Homo sapiens: one gene and its partners. The protein of the gene in region 4 interacts with the protein of the main gene of each other region in a pairwise test. Each region holds a gene or a part of one and is shown on either strand. Other genes may lie near its edges. The genes, in order: FAM118A, COMP, CFAP410 and ATOX1.

The links.
Region 1: the proteins of ATOX1 (region 4) and FAM118A interact in binary tests that used the Homo sapiens proteins (3 or more experiments, as listed by UniProt).
Region 2: the proteins of ATOX1 (region 4) and COMP interact in binary tests that used the Homo sapiens proteins (3 or more experiments, as listed by UniProt).
Region 3: the proteins of ATOX1 (region 4) and CFAP410 interact in binary tests that used the Homo sapiens proteins (3 or more experiments, as listed by UniProt).

The regions. Positions count from the first base shown.
Region 1 is NC_000022.11:45,319,827-45,327,330, reverse strand, and holds part of FAM118A (protein FAM118A), read right to left. Parts: intron 5,730-7,504; exon of another isoform or gene 5,639-5,729; coding exon of another isoform or gene 5,538-5,638; intron 5,290-5,537; exon of another isoform or gene 5,285-5,289; coding exon of another isoform or gene 5,116-5,284; intron 4,961-5,115; coding exon of another isoform or gene 4,952-4,960; coding exon 4,905-4,951; intron 4,160-4,904; coding exon of another isoform or gene 4,157-4,159; coding exon 3,904-4,156; intron 3,255-3,903; coding exon of another isoform or gene 3,120-3,254; exon of another isoform or gene 855-3,119; intron 1-854.
Region 2 is NC_000019.10:18,788,306-18,796,717, forward strand, and holds the start of COMP (cartilage oligomeric matrix protein precursor), read right to left. Parts: upstream 3,001-8,412; 5' UTR 2,965-3,000; coding exon 2,886-2,964; intron 2,631-2,885; coding exon 2,545-2,630; intron 2,309-2,544; coding exon 2,257-2,308; intron 1,810-2,256; coding exon 1,637-1,809; intron 993-1,636; coding exon 855-992; intron 609-854; coding exon 534-608; intron 446-533; coding exon 287-445; intron 210-286; coding exon 105-209; intron 15-104; coding exon 1-14. UniProt on the Homo sapiens protein: Plays a role in the structural integrity of cartilage via its interaction with other extracellular matrix proteins such as the collagens and fibronectin.
Region 3 is NC_000021.9:44,336,297-44,343,762, forward strand, and holds the start of CFAP410 (nuclear encoded mitochondrial protein C21orf2), read right to left. Parts: upstream 3,095-7,466; 5' UTR 2,899-3,094; coding exon 2,822-2,898; intron 2,407-2,821; exon of another isoform or gene 2,137-2,406; coding exon of another isoform or gene 1,938-2,136; intron 1,372-1,937; coding exon 1,353-1,371; intron 625-1,352; exon of another isoform or gene 528-624; intron 1-527. UniProt on the Homo sapiens protein: Plays a role in cilia formation and/or maintenance. Plays a role in the regulation of cell morphology and cytoskeletal organization. Involved in DNA damage repair.
Region 4 is NC_000005.10:151,748,170-151,755,673, forward strand, and holds part of ATOX1 (copper transport protein ATOX1), read right to left. Parts: intron 5,954-7,504; exon of another isoform or gene 5,504-5,953; intron 5,141-5,503; exon of another isoform or gene 4,911-5,140; intron 3,611-4,910; coding exon 3,535-3,610; intron 1-3,534. UniProt on the Homo sapiens protein: Binds and deliver cytosolic copper to the copper ATPase proteins. May be important in cellular antioxidant defense.

The DNA of each region.
Region 1 (7,504 bases), on a different chromosome or scaffold from region 4:
TTTCTCTTTCTCGGTGGTAATGAAACAGCGTGTCTTCGTGGCACCTTCAATGAGGCGGGAGGCAGTGTTTCTTTTTTCTTTTTCTTTTTTTGAGATAGGGCCTTGCTCTGTCATCCAGGCTGGAGCACAGTGGTGCCAGGATAGCTCACTGCAGCCTCCAACTCCTGGGCCCAAGCGAGCTTGCCACCTAAGCCTCCCAAGTAGCTAGGGCTACAGGTGCCACCACCACACCCAACTCATTATATTTTTTAAAAATTTTTTTAATTTAATTTTTTATATTATTTTATTTCATTTTTCATTTTATTATTTTATTTTTTGAGACAGAGTCTCACTCTGTCACCCAGGCTGGAGTGCAGTGAGTGGCACGATCACGGCCCTCTGCAGCCTTGATCTCCCAGGCTCAAGTGATCCTCCAACCTCAGCCTCCCAAGTAGCTGGGACTATAGGTGCACACACACCATAACACCTAGTTAATTTTTTAACTTTTTTTTTTTTTTTTTTTTTTTGAGACAGAGTCTTGCTCTGTCACCCAGGATGAAATGCAGTGGCGTGATCTTGGCTCACTGCAACCTCCCCTCCTGGTTCAAGCAATTCTCCTGCCTCAGCCTCCCAAGTTGCTGGGACTACAGGTGCGCACCACCACACCCAGCTAATTTTTGTATTTTTAGTAGAGATGGGGTTTCACCATGTTGGCCAGGCTGGTCTCAAACTCCTGACCTCAGGTGATCCACCTGCCTCAGCCTCCCAAAGTGCTGGGATTACAGGCGTGAGCCACTATACCCGGCCTAAATTTTTTTTTATTTTTTGTAGAGACGAGGTCTCGCTATGTTGCCCAGGCTTATCTTGAACTCCTGCCCTCAAGTGATCTGCCCACCTTGGCCTCCCAAAGTGCTGGGATTACAGGCATGAGCCAGCACACCTGGCCCGTAGTGCCGCATATACTCTGAGAGACACAAGAGGATCAGGACTGAGGCCTGGCCTCCGGAAGCAGCCTCAGTGTTTCACCGGTGGCCTTGACAGGAGCTGTCTCCAAGGGGCCTTGACAGCCAAAGCCTGGCTGGGATGGCTTCAAGAGAAAAAGGAAGGGCTGGTGACAGCAGATGCAGCAACCATGCTGCAGAGCTTTGCTGGGAGGGGACAGAGAGGCGGGGTGGGGGCGGGTTCAGGAGGACACAGGGTCCCCTCTGCCCGGCTCCCAGCCTCATTGTCACCCTCTGCCTCGGCACCTGGGTATCAAAATACCTCCCCTCGCCCTCTGTGCCTGTTCGTGTTGCTTGGCCGGCACAAGAAAACCAAGACTCATAGGTTCCCACTCATCGCCACAGCTCTTCTGACTCTCCCACCACCCAAACCCTCCCACTGTTCCCAGGGGGTCTGCCATCAGCCAACCCCCACATCTCCATCATCTCCTGGGAATGCTCACCTTCTCCCCGACCTGAGACCTGGCTCTATGCATCCCTGAGACCCTTCCTGGGGGCTCCCCTGCACTCCCTGCACCGATGAAGGTGAGGGCTGAGTCTCTCCAGCTGTGCCGTCATAATTTGGGGTGATTCTCATGTCCGCTTGGATGATTCTCCCTGGGATCATGGCCTCTAAATTCCAGCCATCACTCTCCTCCAATAGTCCTGGTCCATCTCAGCCATCCACACATACAGCCCCCAAGGCCTTATCGTTACCAAGACCTGGATCCTTTCCAGAACCTCTGGGCCAGCTTCCCCTGTCCAACCACTCCCTCCCATCTGCCCACCTCTCTAGCACCCTGGCTCCCAGGGAAACTTCAAGCCCATTGAGGCCCGTGAGCTACTGACCCCACTATCACTGACCAGTCACTAGCTGCCCTGCTGTCCTGTCCTGCCTTCTTCCATCAAGCAGCTTAGAGTCTACAATGGATCACTACAACTTCCCCCAATACACTTGCAAGCCCCTCACCCTTCTCTGGTGTTGCTGGAATTCCTGATGCAACCAACTCTCAGCTTCCCCCATGCCTGTTCTCCGACTCTCAACACAGCTGTGTCGACAGCCTCACCTCAACGCTTCCTGATGGAGGTTTTCAAAAACACGCAAAAGTGAACAGAAGAGTTGAATGATGCTCAACTACTTGTTTTCAAGACAAACGATTCTCATTCTAGACAAACAGTCTCTCTTCACCTGAAGGACAACAAGGGCCCTCAGTGCTGCCCAGCGACCCCACTACCCTTCCCTGGCCTCCCTTCGACTCCTCCCTTCTTCTTCCTATGACGGGTGAGCAAATGTTGTCTACAAGGGCCAGAGAGAAAATATTTTGAGATGGAGTTTCACTTTTGTTGCCCAGGATAGAGTGCAATGGCACAATCTTGGTTCATTGCAACCTCTGCCTCCCAGGTTCAAGCGATTCTCCTGCCTCAGCCTCCTGAGTAGCTGGGATTACAGGCGCCTGCCACCACGCCAGGTTAATTTTTGTATTTTTAGTAGAGACAGAGTTTCATCACATTGGCCAGGCTGGTCTCAAACTCCTGACCTCAGGTGATCTGCCTGCCTCGGCCTCCCAAAGTGCTGGGATTACAGGCGTGAGCCACCGCGCCCCTGCCTCAGAGAGGAAGTATTTTAGGCCTTGTGGGCCAGAAAGTCTCTGTTCCAACTACTCACCTGGGCCTGGAGGCATGAAAGCAGCCACGTACTATACGTAAATGAATGGGTGTGGCCGCCTGTCAGAACCTCATTTGCAAAAACAGGCCCAAGGCTGTACATTTCCAACCCCTGGCCTGTGATGAAAGGTGTTCCTTATTAATAGAACACCCATGAGTGGCAGAGTCACCTGACTAAAAACATTTCCCAAGCTCTGCTAGGTGCAGCCCTAGCTAAAACTCTGGCCAATGAGATGAAACAGAAGCGGTGTATGTGACTTCAGTGGTGGCCCTTGAAGCCCCCCACTTCCTCCCCTCCCCGCACTTCCCTCCTCCACGCACTCCCCGCGCACGCACATCATTTACAGCTGCCCGCAGGGCACCCGACGGAAGCTGCCTGTTGAGGGTGGCAGAGCCAGCAAAGAGGGGCCCTGCCCGGCCACCATGTTCTCCTTGGGCTGCCCACCCGGGTCTCTAGGTGGGGATTATAAAGGTGCTCACATGAAGCCATGTGGTTTAAGGTCTCCTTTCACAGCCAACCTCAACTCTCCCACTCTCCTTGGTGACGAGCTCACTTTTTTTCGTGCTCTCTCCTCTGTTCAAACGTCCAACATCTCCTCCCGTCCTGACTCTCAGATGGTGACTGTGCCTCTTCAGTAAATACAAGAGCAGAAGAAGACAATGACTGCCAAGAGCCCCAGCCATAGGGTCCAGCTTCCCAGCCTTTATGGCCACACGCCATAGCTGACGGGGACAACAATGGCCTGCCACGCACCTTCCCCTGCACCAGACCCATCGGCCCCAGGGCCTCGCTCAGGAATAGCTCCTGAATCATCAGTGCTTCTCCTCTCAACTAGATCATCTAGATCATCTCTGCAGCAGACAAAGAAGCTGGAACTTCTCCCATCTTCAGATGTTTTCTAGGAAGCACCTGTCATCTGAAGAAATATGGCCGGCCTGCTTACACCAAACACGCCTAAGGGATATCCCTTCACTAAGTGAATATACAATCACAAAGTTCATACTGAGTGCAGCTGGACAATCTCCCTGAGACGATCTCACACAGTCAGGCTCCATTTAATAGGAGCTACTTTAGGAGCCCCACGCTGCAGTGTGGCTGGCATCCCCTCAATTTTAAAAGACGACACCCCGATGGACTCAAGGATTTCTGGCTCATCAGCCCGACTCTGCTGAGCACTGAACACAAGTTAGGCCTGCAGAGTTTAACATTAGGTTCACAGACTCATCCAACCTGCTGCAGAACCAAGCTGTCCCCAAGAGGTACTTGTCTGACACTTACAGGTGACATCTTCCGGATCAGATCATGGGCGACAACCAACAGGTCCCGGTCCTTTGTCACTTTCCTCCGGAACTCGGCGACGTCTCCGGGGTGCAGCACCTCCAGCTGCTCTGCAGCCTCGATGACGGCCTCGATGCAGCTTCTCCACGAGCAAAGGGCAGGGATTCCGGGGGCCACTGCTGCGCTGACGCCAGTCCCGATAACCAGGAGCAGTTCCTGGGGCTGTTTCCGGATGAGGCTTTTTAAAAACTTTCTACTTGAAAAGAAGGGAGCAAGAGAATGAAAGTCAAAGCGGAAACATTGCAAACACAAAGTCTGGAACTGTCTGCGAGTTCCGGCCTTGTGCTGTGTACACACACACACACACACACACACACACACACACAGTCCCCTCTGACGCTGTGGGGAGACGGCCTGTGTATCCTTCTTTGCGTATTTATTTCACATGTTCTACCCTTATTCCTTAAAGGACGTGGGACAGCTGTGTCTCATGCATTTTAAGTTGCCCAGTGTTAAGCTCAATTTAAGTGATACATATCATTCCTTTGAAGCTGCACACAGGTTATGAATACAAACGATGATGACAAAATGACCCCTGCTTGCAGTGACGGATAAGACAGTTACTGGCAAATGCTGGTTTCCTGCCACCCACCAATCCCAACAGTAAGTACCTCTTTATCGCGCTTCACTTTATAGCAAACACAAGCTGCTGTCCATCTGTAGTCAAAGAATTCTTTCTTAGGAAGCCTGACACTCCCAGTTCTAGACATGACACCTCTAATGACATGTTGCTTGGTTTGGAGACTGGGCAGAAAGCTGCCTTCTGGAACGTTCCTTACATTGAAGCCAAGGGTGGAAAATGGCCCTCGAGGTTCTCTCATGCCCCAGTGTTTCCATTTCACTTTCGCCCTTGCAGGTACTAAAGAACGAGTGCGCACACTCACGAGAGACGCTAGATGAAGTCAATGAAGCTGCTTGAAGGTATAGTTGCCTTTAATTACCTGGATTTTTGTTCACTTCTATTTGTTGTCTTTTCCACTGAATCCATCTGTGAATTCTAAAGAGAAAAATTAGTCAGAAGTGACTTCTGTCTCCCAGGTAAAAGTTTTTATTTGCACCCTGGAAGATAGTTAAGGCTAGAATTAAAATCAAAGGTCCTCAATCTTTACTTAAATTATAATATCTGAAAAATGTCATACGCAAATGACGTACATCCAAAATGCTTCCTAAGCCACCATTCCTCATCTCATGAGACTCATCAGGCTGGTTGGACTCTCGCTGTTCTACACGGGACAGCACAGAAGGAAAACGCACACACAGGAGCAGATGAAGGATGGGCTCTGTGGGCTCCGAGCTGGGGTTTTCGCTGTCTCTTGGGACACTGCTCTAGAAGAATTTCCAGTGCACATGAACACAGATGACTTATCAGAGAAGCAAAACACAGCAAGCGGCACAACAAAGCGAAGCCAGAGGCGGTTTTGCAGAGGAAGCCAACGAGTGCTCTAAGGTGCAGAGCACTGGACTGGAGCATGGCCATCCTCAGCATCGGCACCAGCTCCAAGGCACCAGCCCTCCCCTCGGCCTTACTGAAATCCACTCTAAAGAAGTCATCCAAGTAAAAAGCCAATTCTTACCTTATATAAAAACAGAAATCCCAAACCATCTGGGTCTCTTTCACCAAGCTATCTCCATATTCTTTAATTTTTCCAAAATCAGACCAGGCATGGTGGCTCATGCTTGTAATCCCAGCATTTTGGGAGGCCAAGGTGGACTGCTTGAACTCAGGAGTTCAAGACCGGCCTGGGCAATACAGCAAGATCCTGTCTCTACAAAGAATAAAAAAATTTGCCAGGCATGGTGGTGCATGCCTGTAGTCCCATCTACTAGGAAGGCTGAGGTGGGAGGGTCGCCTGAGCCTGGGAGGTTGAGACTGCAATGAGCCATGGCCACGTCACACCACTCCACTCCAGCCTGGGCAACAGGGTGAGACCTTGTTTCAAAAATAAAAAATAAATAAAAAATAAAAATTTTCCAAAATCGCGTTTCCCCCCAATTCTAGAAATAATATCTACTGTAAGCAAGGAAAAATACAGAAAAATAAGGTTTTGCCTATAATCCTATGACCTGTGAGCAGTAACTGTTAACATTTATATATTCCCTCTACTCTCTTTTAAAAATGTTTACAAGGGAGGCTGAGGCAGGAGAATCACTTGAACCCAGGAGGTGGAGGTTGCAGTGAGCTGAGATCGCGCCACTGCACTCCAGCCTAGGCAACAGAGCAAGACTCCGTCTCAAAAATAAACAAACAAACAAAAGTATTGACATAATTTGAGAACACAGTGCATATCCTACTTTTTCATGCATTAAAATAAATACATCTCCTTTATGTTATTAAAAACTATTCATAAATGTAAGTGTAATGTATATATATGGAATTCTCTCTTACTGACACATGTCTGATGCAGAATGTTAGTATAACACCCTGACCACCGACTTAGTGCACAAAGCCTGTATATTGTGAAATTATTTATTTAGGAGAGATTTCTGAGAAGAACTGCTGAGTTAGAGAGTATGAACACTGTAAAATATCTTAGCACACACCACCAAACCGCTTTCCAGAAAAGTGGTCAGCAGAACACGTCAGTGCTCGCTTTGCCACATCCAAACCAGCACTGACTGAAAATGACTTTGGCAGAGTACGCTGGCTCACATCTGTAATCCCAGCACTTTGGGAGGCTGAGGTGGGAGGATCCCTTGAGCCCAGAATTTCAAGACCAGCCTGGGCAACATCATGGGGAAACCCCATCTCTACAAAAAATACAAAAATTAGCCAATGTGGTGGTGCTCATCTGTAGTCCCAGCTACTTGGAAGGCTGAATGGTAAAATCACCTGAGCCCAGGAGGTTGAGGCTGCAGTGAACCACGACTGTGCCACTGCACTCCAGCCTGGGTCGCAGAGTGAGACCCTGTCTTAAAAAGAAAAAAAAAAAGAAGAAGAAGAAGGAAGAAAAGAAAAAGAAAAATTACGTGTTTGTTTGTTTTTTTTTGATGGAGTCTCGCTTTGTCACCAGGCTGGAGTGCAGTGGCACAGGCCTGCGCCACCACATCCGGCTAATTTTTGTATTTTTCATAGAGACGGGATTTCACCATGTTAGCCAGGATGGTCTCGATCTTTGACCTTGTGATCCGCCTGCATCGGCCTCCCAAAGTGCTGGGATTACAGGCATGAGCCACAGCAACTGGCTGAAAAATCACTTTTTCACATGTGTAATCTTCACTCACACACACACACCCAGCCACTAGAATCAGGTCATCAAAAGTAATTTTCCAGGGTAAGGAAACAAGGCTTAATCAGTCCATAAGCATCATTAGATCGCAGAGCTAAATGGGATCCCCGTTATCCTTTGAAAATGTAAACAACTACCTAAGTCCATGCATATATTTTCCTAGGGAGAGTTCACAGCTTCCATCAACTCCCAAACATGTCTGCGACCTTACCCCAAATGCTAAGAAATCACAGTCCACAGGCAAAGAAAACGAGGCTCACAGATGCCTGTAACCTGCCCCAGGGAAAGACTGGCAGAGTCCGGGCTGGGGCTTG
Region 2 (8,412 bases), on a different chromosome or scaffold from region 4:
GTCACGCAGTTGTCCTGGGGGCGGGCACAGAAGGTGTGAGGGGCGCGGTCATGAAGTCCCGCCCTCCCTCCTGCCCAAGCCCGCCCCGCTCCGCCCCCACCCACCTTACGGCACTGGCGCTCCGGGCAGCGCAGCTTCTCGTCCGGGAAGCCGTCTAGGTCAGTGTCGCGACCACAGAGGATCCCGTTGCCGGCCCAGCCAACGGCACACTGTGGGAGAGTGTAAGTGGGTGCCCTGGAGTGGCCGCCACCCAACCCCGCCTCAAGCCCAGCCCGCCCGCACTCACCACGCACGACCGCGAGCCATCGCGCTCTAGGACGCAGTCTGCATGCTCGTGGCACTCGCTGGGCGAGCCGTCGGGGCAGAAGCGCTGTGCGCGCCGCTGGCAGCCGGACGCCTGGTCGCCCACGAAGCCGGGCTGGCACGGGCCGCACTGGAAGGAGCCCTGCGCCGGAGCCGCCGGAGGTCAGCGCAGGCCGCCCGCCGCTCGCCCCACCTCCCGCGATCCTTTCTTCCTCCCCAGCGGGCCTTACCCGGGTGTTGATGCACACGGAGTTGGGGACGCAGTTATGTTGCCCGGTCTCACACTCGTTGATGTCCGTGCAAACCTAGGGGAGGGGAACTCAGAGGTCACCACCCCACGCAGACACCTCCGGACCTCCCACCTCCTCCACACTTCCTCCGCATCCTGCCTCTCCCCTCCATCCTGCCCCAAACCGATCAGCCCTGGCGCAGCGGACCCCTCCTCTCCCCACCCCTCCCGCTGGAAGGAGGCTGGAAGAGGAGTTTACTGGTAAACAAAATGGACGCCCCCTTCCCTTCTGCTCCAAAAATGGGGCCCCCACACCTCTCACCTGCTTGTTGGCCTTGGCGAAAGCCAGCCCCACGCCCTGGTGGGTGGGGCCGCTGTACCCCGGCGGGCAAGCCTCGCAGCGGAACCCCGGGCTGGTGTTGATACAGCGGACTCGGGGGAAGCAGGGGTGGGCGTTGCACTGGGGGAGGAGGGGCCACAGAGGGTCAGAGGGCTTCGAGCTGGGCCCTGGGGGCCGCACCTCGTAGTGTCTCGGATGTGGAAAGTTCAAGGGCCATATGCCAGTGCTTGGAGCTCTGAGATGGAAGCAATTGTCGCAGGGGTCAGGCACGACTTTGCCTTGATGACGGCAAGGGCGCAACCGGGAGAGGAGAGGAGAGCTGTTCCCTCATGGGCGAGGGGAGGAAGGATGAGGGCGGGCATCCCCAGCAGAGGGGGGCAGGGGTCGTCGGGGCGTGCGTGCCCGGCGGTGGCGGGGGGTCTGGGCGTGCGTTCCCTGGCTGTGGAAGGGTCGTTGGGACTGGCGATCCCCTGCGGCGAGGAGGGTAGCTGGGGCGGACCACCCCTGGCGGTGAGGGAGTCGTCGGGGCGGGCGTCACTAGCTATGTAGGGGGTTGTGGGGGCGGGCGTCCCGGGTGGTGACGGGGATGGTCCTTGGGTTGGGCGTCCCCCCGCGGTAAGGAGGTAGTCTGGCCGTGCGCCCCCGGAGGTGAGAGGCTCTTCGGGGCGAACACTCCCAGTGGAGGAAGGGGTCTCCCGGGCGGCGAGAGATTGGGGGGCGGTAGAGGGAGTCGTCAGGGCGGTGGAGTGTCGGGGCTAGCGCACCTCGTTGACGTCGGTGCAGTGCGAGCCGTTGCCCGTGAAGCCCGCGGGGCAGGGGCCGCAGCGCGCGCCGCTCTCCGTCTGGATGCAGGCCACGCCGGGGAAGCAGAAGCCGGGCGCGCAGTGGAGCAGGGGCCGCACGCTGGGTAGGCCGGTGCGTACTGACTGCTGCATCCCTGCGGGGGGGAGGGGGGAGAAGCGGCGGGGCTGATCGGTGGCTCGCCCGGGGGCAGAGCCTATCATGGCCACGCCCCGGGGCTGGAGGCTTCCCCTTCCCCCCCACCCCCCGCCCCGGGGCGGCCCGAAATCCTGCGCTGTCCGCGATCCCGCCCCAGAGGCTGCGCGCTCTGACCGCGGGGTCTCCCCGGTCTCTTCTCTGAGTCTCTGTCCCGCTTTTCTGCCCCGTGGCGTCTCTCACTTCCCCAAAACTCTCTCACCGCTTCTGTCTCTTTTTGTCTCTGTTTCTACACACCCCATCCCATTCCCGTTCGTCCGTCCACCTCTCCGTCAGCCTCCATCTCCTTCCGTCTCTTTTCCTCCCCAGCTTTCCCTGGCTCTCTGTCTCTGTCTCTGTGTCTCTGTCTCCCGTCTCTTCTCTCTCCCGACCGCCCCGCCGCGCTCACCGCACGCGTCACACTCCATCACCGTGTTTTTCAGGAACGTGATCTCCCTGACCTGCAGGGGTGGGATGGAATCAGCGGGGTCCCAACCTCTCCTCATCCCTCGGGTCTCCCCTCTCTCTACCCCGGGGTCCCTTTCTACAGCCTCTTTTCGCCAAGGACTCCCTACCCGCCGACCCCCTTCCCTCCCCATCTCCTCTCCACCTTCTCGGGTACTTCCTCTCTCCTCGCTGGGAACTGAGACCCCCTTCCGTTCCCTGGCACTCCCTGCCCCGCACCCGGGCCCCGCACCTGCTGCCGCAGCAGCTCCCGCACGTCCTGCAGCGCCGCGTTGGTTTCCTGCAGTTCCCGAAGCATCTGCGGGCCCAGGTCTGAGCCTGCGGCGGCAGGGGACCTGGTGAGGCGTCATGGGGCCGGGGAATCCCACCACCAACTCCCACCGTTGCAGCGAACCCGGACCTCCGAGGCCCCACTGCGCTCCTCTAGTCTCGGTCCCGCCACCTGCTTTCTGCGCCCGGCACGTCCCCTACGAACAGTCCGTGAGCCCCAAACAGCCTGGATCCCGGGCCTCTCACGGGTCCTACAGTCCGTTGTGGGGCCGTGGGCACGGCGCGGGTGCTAACGCGGCTTACCCAACGGGCTCTGGCCCTGTCCGGACGCGCCGAGGGCAGCCAGGGTGAGCAGAAGAACGCAGGCGGTGTCGGGGACCATGGCGGTGGCGGGGAGCTGGGTGGCTGCTCGCTTTCTACCGCCCACGAGGCCCGCGGGGCCTATTTATCCCCAAGGCACGGCCGGCCCCAGGGACGGCCCACCACAGCCCTGCCCAACGTCCAGCCTCAAGGTAAACAGATGGCGCTGGCCCCTGCGTTCAAGTCCCCGCCCGGAATGCCCCGCGAAGTCGCCCGCGGCTGAATCCGACATGGTGGGGAAACTGAGTCCCGGGGTCTGTGGAGAGAGCTGGTGGGGCAGGGAGTCAGGGGGTACTGCCCCCACTTTCATTCACTGTGTGTGTGCGTCTGTGTGTGTGTGTGTGTGTGTGTGTGACGGGGTGTGGCTGTATCGCATCCTCTTGCTTCAGTCTCCCATGTAGCTGGGACTACAAGCCCGCACCACCAAGTCCAGCTAATTTATTTTTATTTTTATTTTTATTTTTAGAGACCGGGTCTGGCTATGTCCTGCAGGCTAGTAGTCTCAAACTCCCGGCCTCAAGCGATACTCCCCACATAACTGGGATTACAGGATCCAGCCATAGCATTCAGCTCATTGATTGATTGATTGATTGAGTGCTTGCTGTATGCCAAACCTGAGTTCCAGTTCCAAACAAGGCAGGCTCCATGGCCACGCTCTCAGCTCACACTTCGGGAAACAGAGTCACCAGCGTCTGAAAAAATAGGTCCACCCACTATGGATCAGACTGACTGGCCCTCCACTCCTCCTGAAGTGCTTCAAAACTGGGTAAGTTGCTGGGTGCGGTGGCTCACACCTGTAATCCCAGCACTTTGGGAAGCCAAGGCGGGCAGATCACCTGAGGTCAGGAGTTTGAGACCAGCCTGGCTAACATGGTGAAACCCCATCTCTACTAAAAGTACAAAAATTACCCAGGCGTAATTCCTCCCTTGCACAATGGAGGTAATAAGTTAATAATTATTAATTAATGATTAATAGTAATGATGATTATGATGATGAATGGAAAATAGGGGAGGGGCAGTTGAGACCTGGGACTCTCAATTTTCCTGCCTCTGTCCAAGGAGGCCGCTTCTGGCCCCAACGCTGGAGGGCTGCAAATGACTCCCCCCAACCCAACTCATTGCTGGTGTTCCCTCCCCTCCCCATGGTCCCTCGGCTGGTGGAGGAGGGGACAGCGTTCAGGATCTTGCCCCAACCCCTGTCCAAGGGGACAGGCCCACTTGGTTTTCCAATCTGCGCAATGGGGTGTGAGGCCCCCATCTGGAGGGGAGCAAGTTAAAGGGCTCTAGCAAGGGGAGGTCCGGGGCTTCTGTTTGTCCAGGCTGTGCCATACCTTCCAAACTGTGCTCCAGCTGCTGTGGGAACAGCCTGTAATAAAAATAAAAGTTACCGCTAACTGGCCAGCCACACTCTGGAGTTACAAAACCCCTTAACCTCCTGCAATCAGTTAACACTCTCCACTCCCACCTTCCAGTACTCACAGCGTCTATTCTATAGACAGAGAAACTGAGGCCCAGAGAGAAAAAGTGACTGGCCTAAGGCCACTGCCCGAGGGCAGGGGTGAATCTAGACTCAGAGCCAGATATGTTTTCTGGGGAGCCTACAGAGAAGTCACCGAGGGCTTCCTGGAGGAGGTAGCAAGGAGACAGACATAAAAGAAAAGGAGGACTTGGATCAGCAGAGGGAAAAGGTGAGGGCAGTTTTGGTGGAGGGAAGCATGTGAAGCTTGGAGGTGGGGACATTTCTAGACACAATAATTATTTCACAAACATCAAGGACTGTTGTGTGTCATGTCTCCTGTGCTGGGTGATGGGCACACAGGGTGAAGAAGCCAGACCCAGTCTCTCCTTCAAATGGGGAGCCCAGTGGGCTCATGGCTGTGACGGGACACACAGACAATGGTAGGAGTCCCCAGGAAATTGATCTGTTTGAAAGGGGATGGGTCAGGGCGGGCTTCTGGAGGAGGAGGGACCACCAAGCTGAGGACCGGATGATGAGGAGGACACAGCCAGGCAGAGGTAGCAGAAAGTCATTCCAGGTAGAGGAAACAGCATAGGCAAAGGCCCTGAGGCAGGAACCAACCTGGCCCGTTGGATGGACTGACCTCAAGGTGACAAGCTCTTGGGGCTCAGTGAGAAGCAGGAGATGAGGCTGTGTGTGAAAGGGCAGTGCTGGTGGTGTGGGGCTCCAGTGGTCTCCCGAGGGTAATGGGGAGCCACAGAGAGTGCGTGAAGAGAGACAGGCCTATAAGTGGAGTGTTGGTGGAAGCAGCTGGTCCCAGCCAGAGCATTTCCAATGAAGCCTGTCCTCAATAGTGCCTGCCCTGCCTGCTGCCTACATTGGGGCCATGAGCTCACCTCCTGTTTTCCTTGGCCTTCAGCACACCTGGGGGCCGCTCCTGGCAGCACTGGAATTCTCGGGAAAACCACAGCTCCAGTGGGGCCTGGGGGCTGGCATATGCTGCACACAGCTAGGACAGGAGCACATGGAAGCCAGGCCCCTGCCACAGGCTGGTCACAGTGCTGGGGCTTGGACACACGTGGCCTTATCCATGGCTGGGCCACGGGGAGTTGCAGGGAAGGGCATTCCAGGCGGAGGGAACTACAAAGGTGGAGTTCCTGAGGGTGTCCCAAGATCGGACAACAGAGGCCCGGAAAGGGGATGTCTGGGGTCACACTCCTGCCTCCTGGATCTCGCCAGCCCTGAAATCCCCCTTCTAGGCAGCAGTCCCCTCCTCCTGTGCACACCACACTTGCCTCAGATTACAGAATAACTCACTGTAGGTGTCATTCTGGGCCTTTGTACCTGCTGTTCCCCCCACCTCGTACAAACTCCTCCATCCTTCAAGGTCCAGCTATAATGTCCCCTCCTCCAGGAAGCCTTCCCTGCTGATATTCTCCAGATAACCTTCCAGCCTAGCCATGATCCTCGGGACTGTGAGTGTCTGTGGTTTGCTCTGTCCCTCCGAGCCTGAGGGGCTCCCACCCAGGGGCCTGGACTGGTGTAGAAAGGTTAGGCTGGAGGGCTTGGTGAGCCGGGACAGCATCCCTATGATTCGTGTTCATTACTATTTTTTTTTTTTTTTTTTGAGATGGAGTCTCACTTTTGTCGCCCAGCTGGAGTGCGATGGTGCAATCTCGGCTCACTGCAACCTCTGCCTCCTGAGTTCAAGTGATTCCCCTGCTTCAGCCTCCTGAGTAGCTGGGATTACTGGCACCTGCCACCACGCCCAGCTAATTTTTTTATATTTTTAGTAGAGACGGGGTTTCACCATGTTGGCCAGGTTGGTCTCGAACTTCTGACCTCAGGTGATCCACCTGCCTCAGCCTCCCAAAGTGCTGGGATTACAGGCGTGAGCCACCGCGCCTGGCCATTACTACTTTTTATAATTAATGTAATGTCATTACTATTTTTTTTTTTTTTTAAAATAGAGATGGGGGTCTTATTATGTTGCCCAGGCTAGTCTCGAACTCCTGGGCTCAACAGATCCTCCTTCCTCGGCCTCTCAAAACCCTGGGATTTCAGCCACTGCACCCAGCCAACATTATCATATGAATCCTAGTAACCCCTGCCACCTCTGTACTTGATATGGCAGGGAAGGGGGCCACACAGCCTGGGTTCAAATATTGGTGAGCATGGCCTTACTGTGTGACCTAGGACAAGTCACTTAACCTCTCTGTGCTTCAGTTTTCTCACCCATAAAATGAGGATGATCACTGTTGAGAGGATTGAATGAGCTGACCCATGGAAATCCTTCAGCCCAGCGCCCAGCTCCAGCGCTACTAGCGTGCTTATTCCATATGAAATTTATACACCGTGGGCCAGTGTGGTGGCTCACACCTATAATCCCAGCACTTTGGGAGGCCACAGCAGGTGGATCACCTGAGGCCAGGAGTTCGAGACCAGTGTGGCCAACGTGAAACTCCATCTCTACTCAAAATACAAAAATTAGCTGGACGTGGTGGCGCGTGCCTGTAATCCCAGCTAATCGGGAGGCTGAGGCAGGAGAATCACTTGAACCGGGGAGGCAGAGGTTGCAGTGAGCCGAGATCACATCACTGCACTCCAGCCTGGGCGACCGAGTGAGACCTTGTCTCAAAAAAACAAAACAAAACAAAAAAACTTATACCCTGTGCCTGTCGCTTATACCTCAGATCGTTCTTATTTCTATCTTACTCAGAGAGGAGAAGAGACAGTCTGAGGTCACACAGCCAGAATTAGAACTGAGGCATGCAAGACCCTCAAGCCCTTCATACCCGCCCTCTCTGTCCTTGCCACAGAAACAGAATCCAGCATTTCGCTGGCCCGAGCCCCTCATTAACTGGGATGTCTTCTCGGCCCAGGACCTCCTGGCCAGAGCATCTGGCCGGCGCCCCAGCCAGCCCCACACCAGGCCCCGTGGTTCCAGGAGCCCGGCCAGGCTGGGGAAGAGGGACGGGTGCCTGCATGATGGGGCCCCGGGGCCCTTCCTGGCAGACGTCTGCTCAGCCAGGAGACGTGTGGGCGCCCCGGCTCCCTGCCTCCCGCCCCCACCGTTGCCTGCCTTTGTGAATGCAGAAGGAAAGTATGTTGTGAAGGCAGCCGCCCTGCCCTGGGCGGGCCGGGCTGTAGGCCCCCAGTCTGCGGAATTCATCAGGGCGGCAGGGGAGGGCAGCTTGGCGACCTCTGCATCCTCAGCCTGCCTTGAACTGGGAGAGACGTACTGGAGGCATCTCTCTAGAAGGAACAAAAGGCAGGGGTGGGATGGGGGGCTCTGAGCTTTGAAGTCCAGGAGACGCCCCCCGACTGGCCGTGTGACCTTTGGCAGGTGCCACCTCCTCTCCCAGTCTCCTTTTTTTTTTTTTTTTTTTTGAAACAGGGTCTTGCTCTGTTGCCTGGCCTGAAGTACAGTGACAATCATAGCTCACTCATTGCAGCCTCCAACTTCTGGGCTCAAGTGATCCTCCCACCTCAGCCTCCCAAAGTGCTGGGATCACAGATGTGCACCACTGCACCCAGCCCCATTCTCCTTTTACTCAGTCCCTACCCCCATTGCATCCCAGGCTCTACTGGATGGCGATAAAGGAAGAAGACAACAATAAATACAGTGGCTACAGTTTTCTTGAGCAAGTGCCAAATGCTTGAAACCTTACCACTCAGCCTTTGTGGGTTTTCTCTTTCTGTCATCCCTTAAGTCCCAGAAGGCAGGAATTTGTCATCATGGGAGACAGTGGGGCACAGTGATGAAGGTCTCAGTCTCTGGCATCAGAGCCTGAGTTTCATATCCCAGCTCTGCTGTGGTACATGAGGCAAGTTGCTTAACCTCTCTGTGCCTCAGTTTCTTCTTTTTTCCTTTATTTCTTCTTCTTTTTTTTGCCACCTTCGAAAGTTTCTTATAATGTAAAATTTTACTTCTCAGGTTACTATACTGAAGAGTTGCTTCAGGAGAGAAAGAATTTCACCAGAGGCCGGGCGTGGTGGCTCACGTCTGTA
Region 3 (7,466 bases), on a different chromosome or scaffold from region 4:
TCAGATGCTGCCAGCAGTGGAGACAGAGCATTCATTACTTTAGATGCCCTCAAAGGACATCAGGTAAGGGGACCCCAATGTCCCCTACGCAGGGATAGAAAGCAAGGAAAGGATGGAAATCCCTTCTTGATAACAGGTCTAGGCCAAAAGGAAGACAGGCTTGAGACTGGATCTCAGATCACATTGGTACTGTCAATTCAGGGGTGAGGTGCCCGGGGTGGTCCACAAAGCCTCACAACCTGCAAAGCTCCCACATATGTGAGAGCCCACCATACGCCAGGCATGGCACCAGCAGCTCACAGCCTGGTCAGATGCGTCCCATGTATAAGTGACTCGTGTCTATGGACATGGTACGTTTGTATATTCACTGCTAAACATGCAGTATTTCAGTTACAGCACAAAACAGATTACACCCAGATGCCACGTATCCAGGCTTTTTTTTGTCTTTAAGAAAAGGTACAGTTCAAATTAAAAAAACAAAGGAAAATAAAGAGATAAATAATTGCGCTGGACATGGTGGCTCATACCTGTAATTCCAATACTTTGCGAGGCTGAGGCAGGTGGATCACCTGAACTCAGGGGGTTTGAGACCAGCCTGGCCGACACAGTGAAACTCCATCTCTACTAAAAAGTACAAAAATTAGCCAGGCATGGTGGTGGGTGCCTGTAGTCCCAGCTACTCAAAGGCTGAGGCAGGAAAATTGCTTGAACCCGGGAGGCAGAGGTTGCAGTGAGCCAAGATCGTGCCACTGTACTCCAGCCTGGGCAACAGAGAGAGACTCCGTGTAAAAAAAAAAAAAAAAGAAAGAAACAATTGGTATGCGATCCCTGTGTAAGTTGGGGACATTTTGGACTGAGAAAGACAATGAGGGAGAGAAGAAAAAAATCTTTCACAGACGCACACACTCAAGTTCTCCCAGCAGGGCTTATTCTCTGCCTGCCTTTGGGGCAGCGGCAAGGGGGTACAAGGCTAGATGTGACCAAGAAGAGGGGGTGTAGACCTTCAACTTCCCCGTAACAAAGTAAAACAAGCCCTCCTGGGATTCCTTTCCAGGTGAGAGCAAGTTCCAAACTATTGCTCCCCTCCTCTGCGACCAAGTGACAAAGGGTGTTTCATTTATAGGGATGTTGACGGGAACTGCAAAATAAGCCTGGCACTAGAGAATTGTTTTTCCATTAGTGGTTCTGCAGAATGAAAACCGCTAAGTGAACAAAGTACCAAGTGTGGGACTGAATTGATAGGTGCAGTTTTGTCAACTTAAAAATTCTCTTGGGAAAGAAGCTACAACATTTGGGTTGAGGCTATTTGGAGATGATCAGTGCAATACTTACATCTGTGAGGCAATACTTACATCTGTGAGGCGGCTGCCCCTGGGGAGAGAAAAGATACATACTTTAATTTTGTTAAAGTTGAATAAAAAACACTGAAGACAAAAATTCCAAAAATCACCGATGACTCCCTACAAACCTTAAGATTCTAGGATTTTAATGGCATGGCAAAAAAGGAAGGTTGCCCAGATAACTGGCAAAGGTGTAAACAATTGTTTTAGCTGATTTTCAACTAAACTGTATGTTTGACGTTGGGGTGGTACTTTTTAGATAAGGAGCAGCAGGGTTGCTCCATTTGTAAGACACAAAAAGATGAACTCTTCCTCATGGTCCCTGAGTAGCAGAAGGTTCATTTCTCTCACTGACAGACATAAACAAGGGCGTCTTTATAAGAGGTCAAGTTCAAAGGGTGAACAGGCAACTTATGAAGCAAACTTTAAAAGCCTGAAACAGGGTTGTTGTTTCTCCCAGCTTAGTGGGAGTACTGACCACCCCATGCAAAACAAAGAAATGCATTATTGAAAGCAAATGACACGGGAATTGTAGCCAAAACACCAGATATGCCAGGGCAGAGAGAAAAGCTTTTTAATTAACAGGGAAGAGCTCACTCTGGGCAGTCTGCGGACACCCCTGGGAGGAAGCGTCTGCTCTCGCTGACCCCCACACCCGCCTGCACGGTGAGGCCAGTTGACACGGCGCGGTCACTCTGCTGAGTCCCCAGGGAACCCTGGAGATCTTGCAGGCCTCAACTCCAGGCTCCCTCTTCTGGAAGCTCCTGGTCTTCCTTGGCTCAGTGAGACTCAGCATTACCTGCCTTTCAGCCTGCCTGGGTCCCACCGCACCCACGTCCCTTCCTGTCACCTGCTAGGAGTACCCTGGGAACGGCCGCCCCCAGTACTGATTACCAACGTGTTTCCTGACTCAGTCCTGGAAAGCTCAGTTCTCTCTCCTATTCGACTTGGTCCCAGTGACTGCTGGCAACCCCAGACAACAGACCCAGCCCACAGGGCACCCGGGGCAAAGGCGGGCCGGGAAATGGGGGGGGGCCCAGGCGACCCCGACCCCCGGCCTCCTCCCCTCCCTCACCCGCGGCTCCTTCGCCGCCCTCGCCCCTGCCCCTCCCCCCTTCCACTCCGCCCCCGCCCCGCCCCGCCCCGGCTCCTCCCTCCGGCTCCGCCCTCGTCCCGCCCCGGCTCCTCCCTCCGGCTCCGCCCTCGTCCCGCCCCGGCTCCTCCCTCCGGCTCCGCCCTCGTCCCGCCCCGGCTCCTCCCTCCGGCTCCGCCCTCTCCCCGCCCCGGCTCCGCCCTCTCCCCGCCCCGGCTCCGCCCTCTCCCCGCCCCGGCTCCTCCCTCCGGCTCCGCCCTCGTCCCGCCCCGGCTCCTCCCTCCGGCTCCGCCCTCTCCCCGCCCCGGCTCCTCCCTCCGGCTCCGCCCTCGCCCCGCCCCGGCTCCTCCCCCCACCCCGGGGCGGCCGCGGCCAGGCCCCGCCTCACCAGCAGTTGAGCTTGCGCACGCTGTGCAGCTCCGAGGCCTTGGCCCGGGTCAGAACCATCTTCCGCGTCAGCTTCATGGCGGCCGCCCAGGCCCGACCGGCGGGCGCCCCCGGCCTCCTGATCCCGGGCGGGTGACGACTGCGCGGCGCGTGTCTCCAGGGGCGGGGCCCGCGTCGTCAGGGGCGGATCCTGAGCCGATTGGCGGCTCGGTGAGGAGAGCGGGGCGACGCGAGCCCGCTGGGGCCGCTTGGGCGCCGCTGACACGTTGGCTCTGCTCCTGCTCATGCGCGGCCTGGGGCGCCCTTCTCTGACGCGATTCTAACGCGACCCCGGAAGCGCGCAGCGAGCAGAGGGTGGGTGCAGGTGGCGGTCCCCGAGTCGGCCCAGTGAGGGCTGAACTGCTGCTCCCAGGAACCGAGCGGGGTGGGCTCGGTCCGACGCGCATCATGGCCGAGTGCCTAGGCCTGACTCTGAGCGCAGGCCTAGCGTGGATGGCATGGGCGCTACACAGCTCCAAGTTACGCGATTCAAACTCTTGGAATAAACCCAGGGCAGCCCTGGGGCTGTGTTGATTCCTTGTCTCCCTCCCTCCCAGCATTTACAGAAAAGACGCATTTATAGGAAAGACGCACGGGCAGGTCCAGCAGAGCCCTTACAAGCATTTCAACCTTTTAGAAATCAGATAAGACCCTCTAAACATCGTTACATGGGCCACAGTTACATTAAGACAGGCGTTCTGACGTTCTGAAACCGCCTTTGCAAAAAATTGTATCGGTGAGAGAAGGTTGGCCTTGAAGGAGATCTGGCCAACCCCCATCTTGCCTTTGGCCTTAAAACTGCCCTTAATTATTCCTGGATAAGCAAAGGTAACTTTGGGAGACATTTATAGTTTAAGTGATAGCAGCCCTTCCTCAAAACTAAACAGCCTTTGTAAAGCTAATGAGACCACTGAAACCGCCTTTGCAAAAATCATAACTGAAGAAATTATGACAGGGGAAGATCTCCTCACCCACCCCATCTTCCTGCTATCCTCTAAGCTGCTTTTGTTCATTCCTGGGTGTAGACCAGACTAGCCTTGGGAAGGAATTTAGTTTATAGATTAAACTGAAACAAAATTGATAATAGCCCTTTCCCAAAAAAACCCTTCTTGCCTGGGGACCAGTCTGCCTTTGTAGGACTAACAAATTAAGCTACGAGATTAAAAATTACAGTTTAGGGGCCATGCAACCTCTGGCGGCAAGAGTCTGAACCTCCCCAAATTGCTTCTGGGAATAACATCACTGTTGCAAAACTTAAGGTCAGTGCTTGAAATATTTTGTAGACCCTGCATTCAGATGCAGCAGATGACACCACCCAAACGGATAATCTGGCTCAACCATGTGTGTGATCCCACCCAGGGACAGAAGTCAGCCAGAACTCATTTTGACCCCCTATGATTTAATCTTCGACCTGACCAATCAGCACTCACCACTTTCTGAGCCCATACCCGCCAAATTATCCTTAAAAACACGGATCCCCGAATGCTTGGGGAGACTGATTTGAGTGATAATAAAACTCTGCTCTCCTGCACAGCCAGCTCTGTGTGTATTACTCTTTCTCCATTGCAATTCCGTTGCCTTGATAAATCGGTTCTGTCTAGGCAGTGGGCAAGGCGAACCCATTGGGCGGTTACACTACCAGCCTAGAAGGATAGAGGAGCATGAATTCCACTAAGATGCAGATGTAAACATTCGTCAGCCATTATTCTGGAGGTCACAAGATAAGCTACTTCCCCAATTACTCCTGCAGGTAACATCACTATTGTACCTTTGCAGGTTTCTTGCATGTCTCACACGGATGGATCCAGCTAAATGTCTTGCCAACAGCTCCTGTGGCCCCACCCAGAAGCCATGCAGCACAAAAGGACCAAAAGGACAGCTAGATTTCATCTCGCACCTAACCAATCAGCACTCCCCATGCCCTAGCCCCCTGTTCACCAAACTACCTTTGAACAACCCCTAACCCATGAGCCTTCAATTGTAACCGAGCAGCTTAGCAGCTGTGAATCCAAAATATCTGAGACAGGACTCAATCTGTTTAGAAAGTTTATTTTGTCAAGGTTAAGGACAAGCCCATGACACAGCCTCAGGAGGTCCTGATGACATGTGCCCTGGGTGGCTGGGGCACAGCTTGCTTTCATACATTTTTAGGGAGACATGAGACATCAATCAATATGTGTAAGATGGAAAAAGAAGAAAAAATATATGTATAAGATGTACATTAAGCCGGGCGCGGTGGCTCACGCCTATAATCCCAGTACTTTGGGAGGCTGAGGCAGGTGGATGGCCTGAGGTCAGGAGTTCGAGACCAGCCTGGCCAACATAGTGAAACCCTGTCTCTACTAAAAATACAAAAAATTAGCTGGGCGCGGTGGTGGGTTTCACTCGTGTCCATGTGAAGAGACCACCAAACAGGCTTTGTGTGAGCAATCAAGCTGTTTATTTCACCTGGGTGCAGGTGGGCTGAGTCTGAAAAGAGAGTCAGTGAAGGGAGATAAGGGTGGGGCCGTTTTATAGGATTTGGGTAGATAAAGGAAAATTATAGTCAAAGGGGGGTTGTTCTCTGGCGGGCAGAGTGGGAGTCACAAGGTGCTCAGTAGGGGAGCTTTTGAGCCAGGATGAGCCAGGAGAAGGAATTTCACAAGACAATGTTATCAGTTAAGGCAGGAACAGGCCATTTTCACTTCTTTTATGGTGGAATGTCATCAGTTAAGGCGAGAACCAGCCATCTGGATGTGTACGTGCAGGTCACAGGGGACATGGTGGCTTAGCTTGGGCTCAGAGGCCTGACAGTGGGCGCCTGTAATCCCAACTACTTTGGAGGCTGAGGCAGGAGAATCGCTTGAACCCGGGAGGCAGAGGTTGCAGTGAGCCGAGACTGTGCCATTGCACTCCAGTCTGCGCAACAAGAGCGAGACTCCGTCTTAAAAAAAAAAAAAAGATGTACATTAGTTCAGTCTGGAAAGGCAGGACACCTTGAAGGCCGGGTGGGGTTGTGGGGGTGGAGGGAGGCTTCCAGCTTCCAGGTCATCGGTGGATAAGAGACAAAAGATTGCATTCTTTTGAGTCCTTTCACTGAATACACAATTTGGTCTAGCTTAGTAAATCTGCATTTTTACATAAACAATAAGGCAGAGAAAGCAAACAGATAGGCATGTGTCTCCGGTGAGCAGGGGGATGACCTCCTGTCCCACACCTGTGAAGATCAGCTATCAGTTTACATTCCAGGGTGAAATTCAACAGAACTGTTTGAGGGTAAAGATCTTGAGGCCCACAAGGAATTTCCTTGTGGGCAAATTGTGAGGGAGCTTCATAGCTTTTTATCTTTGTAGCGATCTTATTTAGGAATAAAATTGGAGGCAGGTTTGCCTGATGCATTTTCCAGCTGACTTTTCCCTTGACTTAGTGATTTTAAGGTCTTGAGCTTTATATTCCTTTCACACAGCTAAGCCTCAAACCATGTTTTAAAACTTTTTCCCCTTTCCCCTTTCCTCCTCCTCCACCCTAGTCTGAAGATGTAACTGAGACAAGCTGCTTGTGTTACCTTCCATCTTGAAATACAGCCTGGGAATGTGAACCTCCACTCCGTTCCCATCCTGTGCTCTCAGGCCTTATGCACATTTAGTTTACCTGGATGCCTGTTAAGCACACACCATGCTCACTTATCTGGTCATCTCTTTGCTTGGAAGCTTCAGGGGTCAGCTCCTGAAAGGGACCGGACACCTCATTCTGTCTCCAACAAGATTACTTCAAGGCCAGAACTCACTCTCGGCCTTGAAGTAATTGAGGACTAAACTCTGATTTTTCTTTTTTTATCTTGCCCAAATTCCTAAAGGGCATGGACAGTCATGCCCTACAAACCATAAATTCTCATCAGATGGGTTTTATTTAACCTTCTATATCGTGGTGTTGACAAAAAGAGTCAAACTCTGTAAAATATTTTAAGAGATTTATTCTGAGCCAGATATGAATGACCATGGCCCGTGACGCAGCCCTCAGGAAATCCTGAGAACATGTGTCCAAGGTGGTCGGGGCACAGCTTGGTTTTTTACTTTTTAGGAAGGCATGAGACAGCAATCTAATACATTTAAGAAATACGTTGGTTTGATTCAGAAAGGCGGGACAACTCAAAGTGGGGGCTTCCAGGCTATCGGTGAATTTAAACATTTTCTGGTTGACGGTTGAGTTTGTCTAAAGACCTGGGATCCATAGAAAGGAAATGCTCAGGTTCAGATAAAAGACTGTGGAGACCGCTGGGCACGGGGGCTCACGCCTGTAATCCCAGCACTTTGGGAGGCCGAGGCGGGCGGATCGCGAGGTCAGGAGATCGAGACCATCCTGGCTAACACGGTGAAACCCTGTCTCTACTAAAAATACAAAAAACAAACAAAAAAATTAGCTGGGCATGGGGGCGGGCGCCTGTAGTCCTAGCTACTCGGGAGGCTGAGGCAGGAGAATGGTGTGAGCCCGGGAGGCGGAGCTTGCAGTGAGCCGAGATTGCGCCACTGCACAGAAAAAAAGAAAAAAAAAGACTGTGGGGACCAAGGTTCTTTTGAAGTCTTTAATGGCTGCCCTTAGAGACAATCGATGACGAATGTTTCCTATTC
Region 4 (7,504 bases):
TCCCCAGCAGCACATGGGAGGACCCAGAGTTTTACTCTGACAAAAGAGTGCAAAAAGAAAGGAAAACTCTTGATAGGTTCTAGGCCTGGCCTCACCATTGACTTGCTGGGTGACCATGGGCAGGGAGTCGGTGGGAGGAGGGTCCTGCTTCTCACAGGCCTCAGCTACCTCATCTGTACATGAAGGAGTCAGGGCTGGCCAGCTCCTGTGGCCTTTCCAGCTCAAGGATGCCATCAGTCTGTGATTCCTCAGCCCTACCACTGTTCTTTTAGGGCCATAAGCAACTCAAAAAACCCTCCTGACCCTTCTCAAGAGGCCACCCAAGCAGGGACAGTAGGAAAAGATGGGCAGAAACCTGCCGAAGCTTAAAGGCAGATCTTCCAGCAAGGGGCCTTAAAAATCATATGGTTGGCCAGGCGTGGTGGCTCATGTCTGTAATCCCAGCACTTTGGGAGGCTGAGGCGAGTGGATCACTTGAGGTCAGAAGTTCAAGACCAGCCTGGCTAACGTGGTGAAACCCCATCTCTACTAAAAATACAAAAATTAGCTCAGTGTGTGGCATGTGCCTGTAATCCCAGCTTCTCGGGAGGCTGGGGCAGGAGAATCACTTGAACCTGGGAGGCAGAGGTTGCAGTGAGCCAAGATCATGCCACTGCACTCCAGCCTGGGAGACAGAGTGAGACTCCCTCTCAAAACAAACAAACAAACAAACAAAACATATGGTTTCCCAGCCTGCATAACAAAGCAAGACCCTGTCTCTACAAAAAACAAAAACAAAAACAAAAAAATAGCCGGGTGTGGTCCTGTAGTCCCAGCTACTCAGGAGGCTGAGGTGGGAGGATGGCTTGAGCCTGGGAAGTTGAGGCTGCAGTGAGCCAAGACCGCGCCACTGCACTCCAGCCTGGATGAAGTTCCTGGGATGGGTAGATGTCTTTGAGCTGTCAAACGAAATTAGGCCCATCCCCACTTCATCCAGAGCCTGCTGCTTTGTATTTGAGGAGCTCCTGTACAGTTTCATTTTTAAAGCATCAACAGGCTGGGCACGGTGGCTCACGCCTGTAATCCCAGCACTTTGGGGGACCAAGGTGGGCAGGTCACCTAAGGTCAGGAGTTTGAGACCAGCCTGGCCAAGATAGAGAAACCCCGTCTCTACTAAAAATACAAAATTAGCCGGGCATGGTGGCCTGAGCCTGTAATCCCAGATACTCAGGAGGCTGAGGCAGGAGAATCGCTTGAACCTGGGAGGTGGAGGTTGCGGTGGGCTGAGATCACGCCATTGCACTCTAGCCTGGGCAACAAGAGCGAAATTCTGCCTCAGAAAAAAAAAAAAAATTAGCCAGGCGTGGTGGCGGGCACCTATAATCCCAGCTACTCGGGAGGCTGAGGCAGGAGAATCGCTTGAACCCGGGGCAGAGTGGAGCAGGTTGCAGTGAGCAGAGATCATGCCACTTCACTCCACTCTAGCCTGGGTGAAAGAGCAAACTCCATCTCCAAAAAAAAAAAAAAAGAAAAAGAAAAAAAAAAGCATCAACAGCAAAAGCTGATACAGACATACAAGATATACATTCCCATACCACAGCTGGGGAAACCCAGGCCCGAGAAAGAAGGGCCCACAGTCACATGACAAGTCAGCAGCTAGGTTCTTTCCACTGTTTCAGTTTCTTTCAGATTAAGATCCCAGTTTACAGGGCTAGAGGCCAGCCACTGACTTGCTGCGGGACTACGGGCAAGTCACTTAACCTCCTGGACACTGGCATCGACATCCCCATTCCAAAGATGGAAAGTACAGCTCAGAGGACTGCTAATGAGATCACGTCCATGTGGAAGCCATTTGAAAACTTAATGTCATTATTATTTAGGGTTTTAAAAAAGAAAATTTTAGAAGATTGTGTGATAGTTCATGTGGAAGAAAAAGAAAAGAAAAAATCTTAGAAGGCTGACTGAGCACTGGCATTGCCAAAACTCTGATCACAACTCAGTTATTACCTCACTGAGTCCCAGGACCAGATCCCAGTCCTCTCTGGGCCTCAGTTTCCCCAGCTGTAAAATGACAAGGCTGGATGAGACTGATTGTTCAAAAGAGGTGCTTTAAGAATATCTGCATGTGGCCAGGTGCGGTGGCTCATGCCTGTAACCCTAGCACTTTGGGAGACCAAAGCAGGCGGATTACTTGAGGTCAAGAGTTCAAGACCAGCCTGGCCAACATGGTGAAATCCATATCTATGAAAAGTACAAAAATTCACCGGAAATCGCCTGAACCCAGGAGGCAGAGGCTGCAATGAGCTGAGATCATGCCACTGCACTCCAGCCTGGGCAACAAACAGAGTGAGACTTCATCTCAAAAAAAAAAAAAAAAAAATCTGCATGTGAGTGATTCAAAATTAATTTAAATTTTTTTTTTTGAAGTAAAGAAACAGAAAAAGACAAAATTTTAAAAATTTTTACCTTTTTTTAAATCTTTCCTTTTTTTCTTTCTTTTTTTTTTTTTTTTTTTGGAGACAGGGTCTTGCTCTGTTGCCCCCACTGCAGTGCAGTGGCACGATCTAGGCTCACTGTGGCCTTAACCTCCCAGGCTCAAGCGATCTTCCCACCTCAGCCCCCTAAATTAGCTGTGAGTACAGGCATGTAACACCATGCCTGGCTAATTTTTTTGGTATTTTTTGTAGAGATGGCATTTTACCATGTTGCCCAGGCTGGTCTCGGGAACTCCTGAGCTCAGGCAATCTGCCCGCCTCAGCCTTCCGAAATGCTGGGATCACAGGTGTGAGCCACCGTGCCCAGCCCCATTTAAAAAACCTTAATAGAGGCTGCGTAGGGTGGCTCGCGCCTGTAATCCCAGCACTTTGGGAGGCCGAGGCGGGCAGATCACCTGAGGTCAGGGGTTCGAGACCAGCCTGACCAACATGGAGAAACCCCGTCTGTACTGAAAATACAAAATGAGCCAGGCGTGGTGGTGCATGCCTGTAATCCCAGCTACTTGGAAGGCTGAGGCAAGAGAATTGCTTGAACCTGGGAGGCGGAGGTTGCAACAAGCCGAGATTGCACCATTGCACTCCAGGCTGAGCAAGAAGAGCGAAACTCTGTCTCAAAAAAAAAAAAAAAAAAAAAAATTCAATAGAAAATGACACTCAGATGTGTCATGCAGTACACACTGGAGATGACCAACATATGAACTAGTACTGCCATGGCTCCAGAGCTACTCCTGGCAGTACTAGTTAATTTGGCTAAATCCCAGCTCTGCCATTTACTGACCATGTGATCCCAGATAAGTTATTTAATGTTTCTGAACTTCAGCTGTCTCCTGTTTAACATGGAGCTAGTAAAAAAAAAACTATCTGAAATGGCCGTGGTGAGGATTAAATGATGTGATTCACATAAGCCACTAAGAAAATAACAAGAGTAGTTGGCACGTGCTAAGTACTCAATATATTTTAGTTTTACTGTTATGATCAGCTTAACCCTAAGTCTCTCCTGCAACATCTGCATGCATCTGAACATGGCATAAGTGCACCCAACTCAGGGCCACTCACTCACCTCCAAGCTTATTGAGGACCCGAGAGACAGCTTCAGCACAGCCTCCACAGGTCATGTCCACAGAGAACTCGTGCTTCTGAAACAAACACAGGGGGACCATGACCCGAGCCCTGTAGAGTGACCCCCACACAGTGCCAGCAGACAGGCCCACTCAGGGTCAAGACAGAAGACAGAGAGACTGGGCAGGACCTGGTTGGCATCAGACTCATCAGAAGCCTGTTTCTGAGCCCGTCTCTTCAACTATAGAGTAGCTAAGAGTTTCTACCTCACAAGTTGTATTCAATGGAATCATCCCTATAAATCCTTTAGCAGTGTCTGGCACATAGTAAATAGAATCACCTGGAGATCTAGTTTAAAATGCTTTTTCCCAGTCCTACCTTCAAAACACTGATTCTTGAGCTATGAGCTTTGTCTCAGGGCCACCAGTAACTCTGACAGGGATGGGCCCCCATACTCTGAGCAATGCTGATCTGGTGGGCCCACTTATGAACCACAAAATTATTTTCTGCACTAGAGTCACCTACAGCTTGCAAAAACTACAGGTTCTGGTCAGCAGGTCTGGGCTGGGGAATCTGTTATGTCTACTCATTACCCCAGGTGATTCTGCTTTCATCCAAGGGCCGCATTCTCAGAGGCAGCATCTGGGTCCAGGGAAAGAAAGGATTGCCTGGGTTCCCCAGTGGGTTGGAGGCCAGGCAGGAAGGGATCCCCGGCTCCTAGTCTTCATGTAAGCTCTACATTCTACAGTCTCTAGGATATCTAACAGATCAAGGGTCTGAAGGTAAGCTCCCAGAAGACAGAGGTTTTGTTCAGTTCACTACTGGATTCCTAATACTTGGAACAGTGCCTGGACAGAGTAGGTGCTTAAAACTTATTTTTGAGTCAATGGATAATTGACATGGCTGGTTTGAACTTCTGGATCTTTTGCTTTGCTTTCACACAAGGATTACTTATACCAATACTTTATTTTAAAATCTCTGGAAATGAGACCATCTGAAATCAGATAAATATGGCTTCAGATACCAGCTCTGGCACTACTAGTTGCATGATCATCAATATGTTACTTCTCTGTGCCTTAGTTTCCACATCTGAAAATTGAGGGTAAGAGTCCCTCTCTAGATTTGTGAATGGGATGAACACAGGATTTTAAGTACGGTTAGCCAGCATCCAAGATGGCCTCAATGATCTCTGCCTCTGGTATTTATGCCCTTGAGTAATCCCATTCCACATGTCTCGGGTTGGTCTGTGTGTCTTATAGAATATGGCTTGAAGTGAGGTTATGTGGCTTCTGAAGCTATCACAATGTCATAAAGGACACTGTGACTTCTGTCTTGCTCCATTTCTGGGGTCACTTGCACTAGAGGAAGTCAGCTACTAAATTACAAAGAAATTCCAGCAACCACAAGGAGAGGTCCACAAAGTGAGAGATTGAACCCTCGAGCTAACAAGCATGTGAGTGAGACATGTTGGAAGTGGATTCTCCAGCTCCAGTCAAGCCTTCAGATGAATGCAGCTCCAGCCAACATCTCACTGCAGCTTTATGAGAGCCTCTGAGCTGGAGCCACTAGGCCAAGCTGTTCCCAAATTCCTGACTCTCAGAAACTGTGTGAGTTACTATAAATATATTTGTTGTTTTATACTACAAAGTTTTGGGATAATTACTAAGGAGCAATAGATAACTAACACATTAAGGAAATTAGAGCCTAGTACTAGGTTCCGTTGGGTAAAAGGTTAGCTATTGGATTATTAATTTCTTCCATTTGTCTCTCCTGTTTCCCTTCAAAAATCAATGGCTACATTTTTCATGGAGCACTTCAAAATATTTGAAGTCTATTACCTCAGTTGGAATCCTGGGTGTAGTGATATATCTTGCTAGAAAACCACAGGCAAAATCTCTGCTCCAGAAGGGCTCCAGTTCCCTAATCTATACCAAAAGGGTATTAGCTAACTCAATTTTTTTCAACTTTAGTGTGCATAGGAAGAATCTGGGGACCTTGTGGAAAGTGCAGCTCCCAGACACCTGCCTCAACTGACTCTGTGGATGTGGAGCGGGCCCTGCCACTCCCCATTTTTAACCTACTGGGGAGAGAACGGGAGGCAAAACTACAAACCTGAAAATAAAGTGGCTAAGTGGCTTCTCAAACTCTTTCCAAGTCTCTAAACACCGCTGAGTCTGGATTGTCACTGTGCTCTACAGAGGAAACGAAGACCAAGAATTAAGCAGCTCGATTTTCCAGTGCAGACTGTTTGACCTTTGTGACTAGTAAACCACTCCTTTTATTAAGGCCAAATCTGCAAAATCTGTCTTAAAGAAAATGGTCAGTCTTTCCTTTCTTCTAAACATCTCTGATTTTTTCATCTTGTTTCCTGACTATTCACAGACAGCAACAATAACAGATTCTGGAAAGAAGGATTTGTAGTAAGTATTACAAAATCTTGTCTTTAAAATGTGGTCCTCAGCCCAACAATATGAGCATCACCTGAGAGCCTGTCAGAAATGCAGAATCTCAGGTCCCTTCCCAGAAGTCCGGAATCAGAATCCTCATTTTAACAAGACACCCAAGTCATTCCTCCCCACATTACAGTCTGAGATGATGCTCTCCTCTATTAAAAAGTTTTTTTAGGCTGGGCAATGTGGCTCATGCCTATAATCTCAACACTTTGGGAGGCTGAGGCAGGTAGATCACCTGAGGTCACAAGTTTGAGACCAGTCTGGCCAACATGGCAAAACCTGTTTCTCTACTAAAAATAGAAAAAAAATTAGCCAGGCATGGTGGCAGGTGCCTGTAATCCCAGCTACTTAGGAGGCTGAGGCAGGAAAATCACTTAAACCCAGGAGTTTGAGACTAGCCTGGGCAATACAGTGAGATCATGGCTCCATTTAATTTAAAAGAAAAAAATTGTTTTGGAAAAAAAAATGATGATGCTCTGGAACATGGATTGGCACACTACAAACTACCTGTTTTACAAAGAGTTTTGTTAAAACATAGCCCAAATCGGGCCAGGTGTGGTGGCTCATGCCTGTAATCCCAGCATTTTTGGGAGGCTGAGGCGGGAGGATCACGAGGTCAAGAGATCGAGACCATTCTGGCCAACATGGTGAAACCCCATCTCTACTAAAAATACAAAAATTAGCTGGTAGTGGTGGCATGCGCCTGTAGTCCCAGCTACTCAAGAGGCTGAGGCAGGAGAATCGCTTGACCCAGGAGGCGGAGGTTGCAGTGAGCCAAGACCATGCCATTGCACTCCAGCCTGGCAAGAGAGCGAGACACCGTCCAAAAAAAAAAAAAAAAAAAAAGAAACACAAAAACAAAAAACTACAGCCAAACTCATTTGTTTACTTTTGCACTAGAATGGCAGAGTTGAGTAGTTGTACCAGAGACCCTATGGTTTGTGAAGACTAAAATGTTTACTATCGGTGCCGTGTAAAAAAAAAAGTTTGCTGAGTCTTGCTCTAGGATAACCAGCAGAAAATCAATTCATCTATGGTTTGTACTTATATACTGAGCCAAAGCTTTGAAGGGTTTGCAAGATCAACATAAGAGCTAAATCTACTGATTGTCTATTACATGTCAAATTATCTTTGTACAGTATCTAAGTTAGTCCTCACTGAGCCTGGAAAGAGAGCTATTTATCTTATTTCACTCAGGAGGAAAGTGAAGTTCCCAAGAGTTCACTAGGTAGCTTGCAGTCATGTGGCAAATAACTACTGAGTATGGAATATGAACCTAGGCTTTCTTCGCTCCAGGGAAATCTTGCTGGTTCTGGAAAAGCAAAGTACACCGCCAGCCCTCATAACCCTGACTCTCAGCAGAAGCTCTGAAACTAGAAACACATTTTTAGGGAGCACAGTTTTTTGCTGCCCAAGGACCTAAAGTCAACAGATACCTGAAACTTTCTGTCGCTGACTACAGGGAGTAGGTCCCATCCCCCACAGTATAAAGGTCAGAAGCCAGAAACCAGCTTCTGG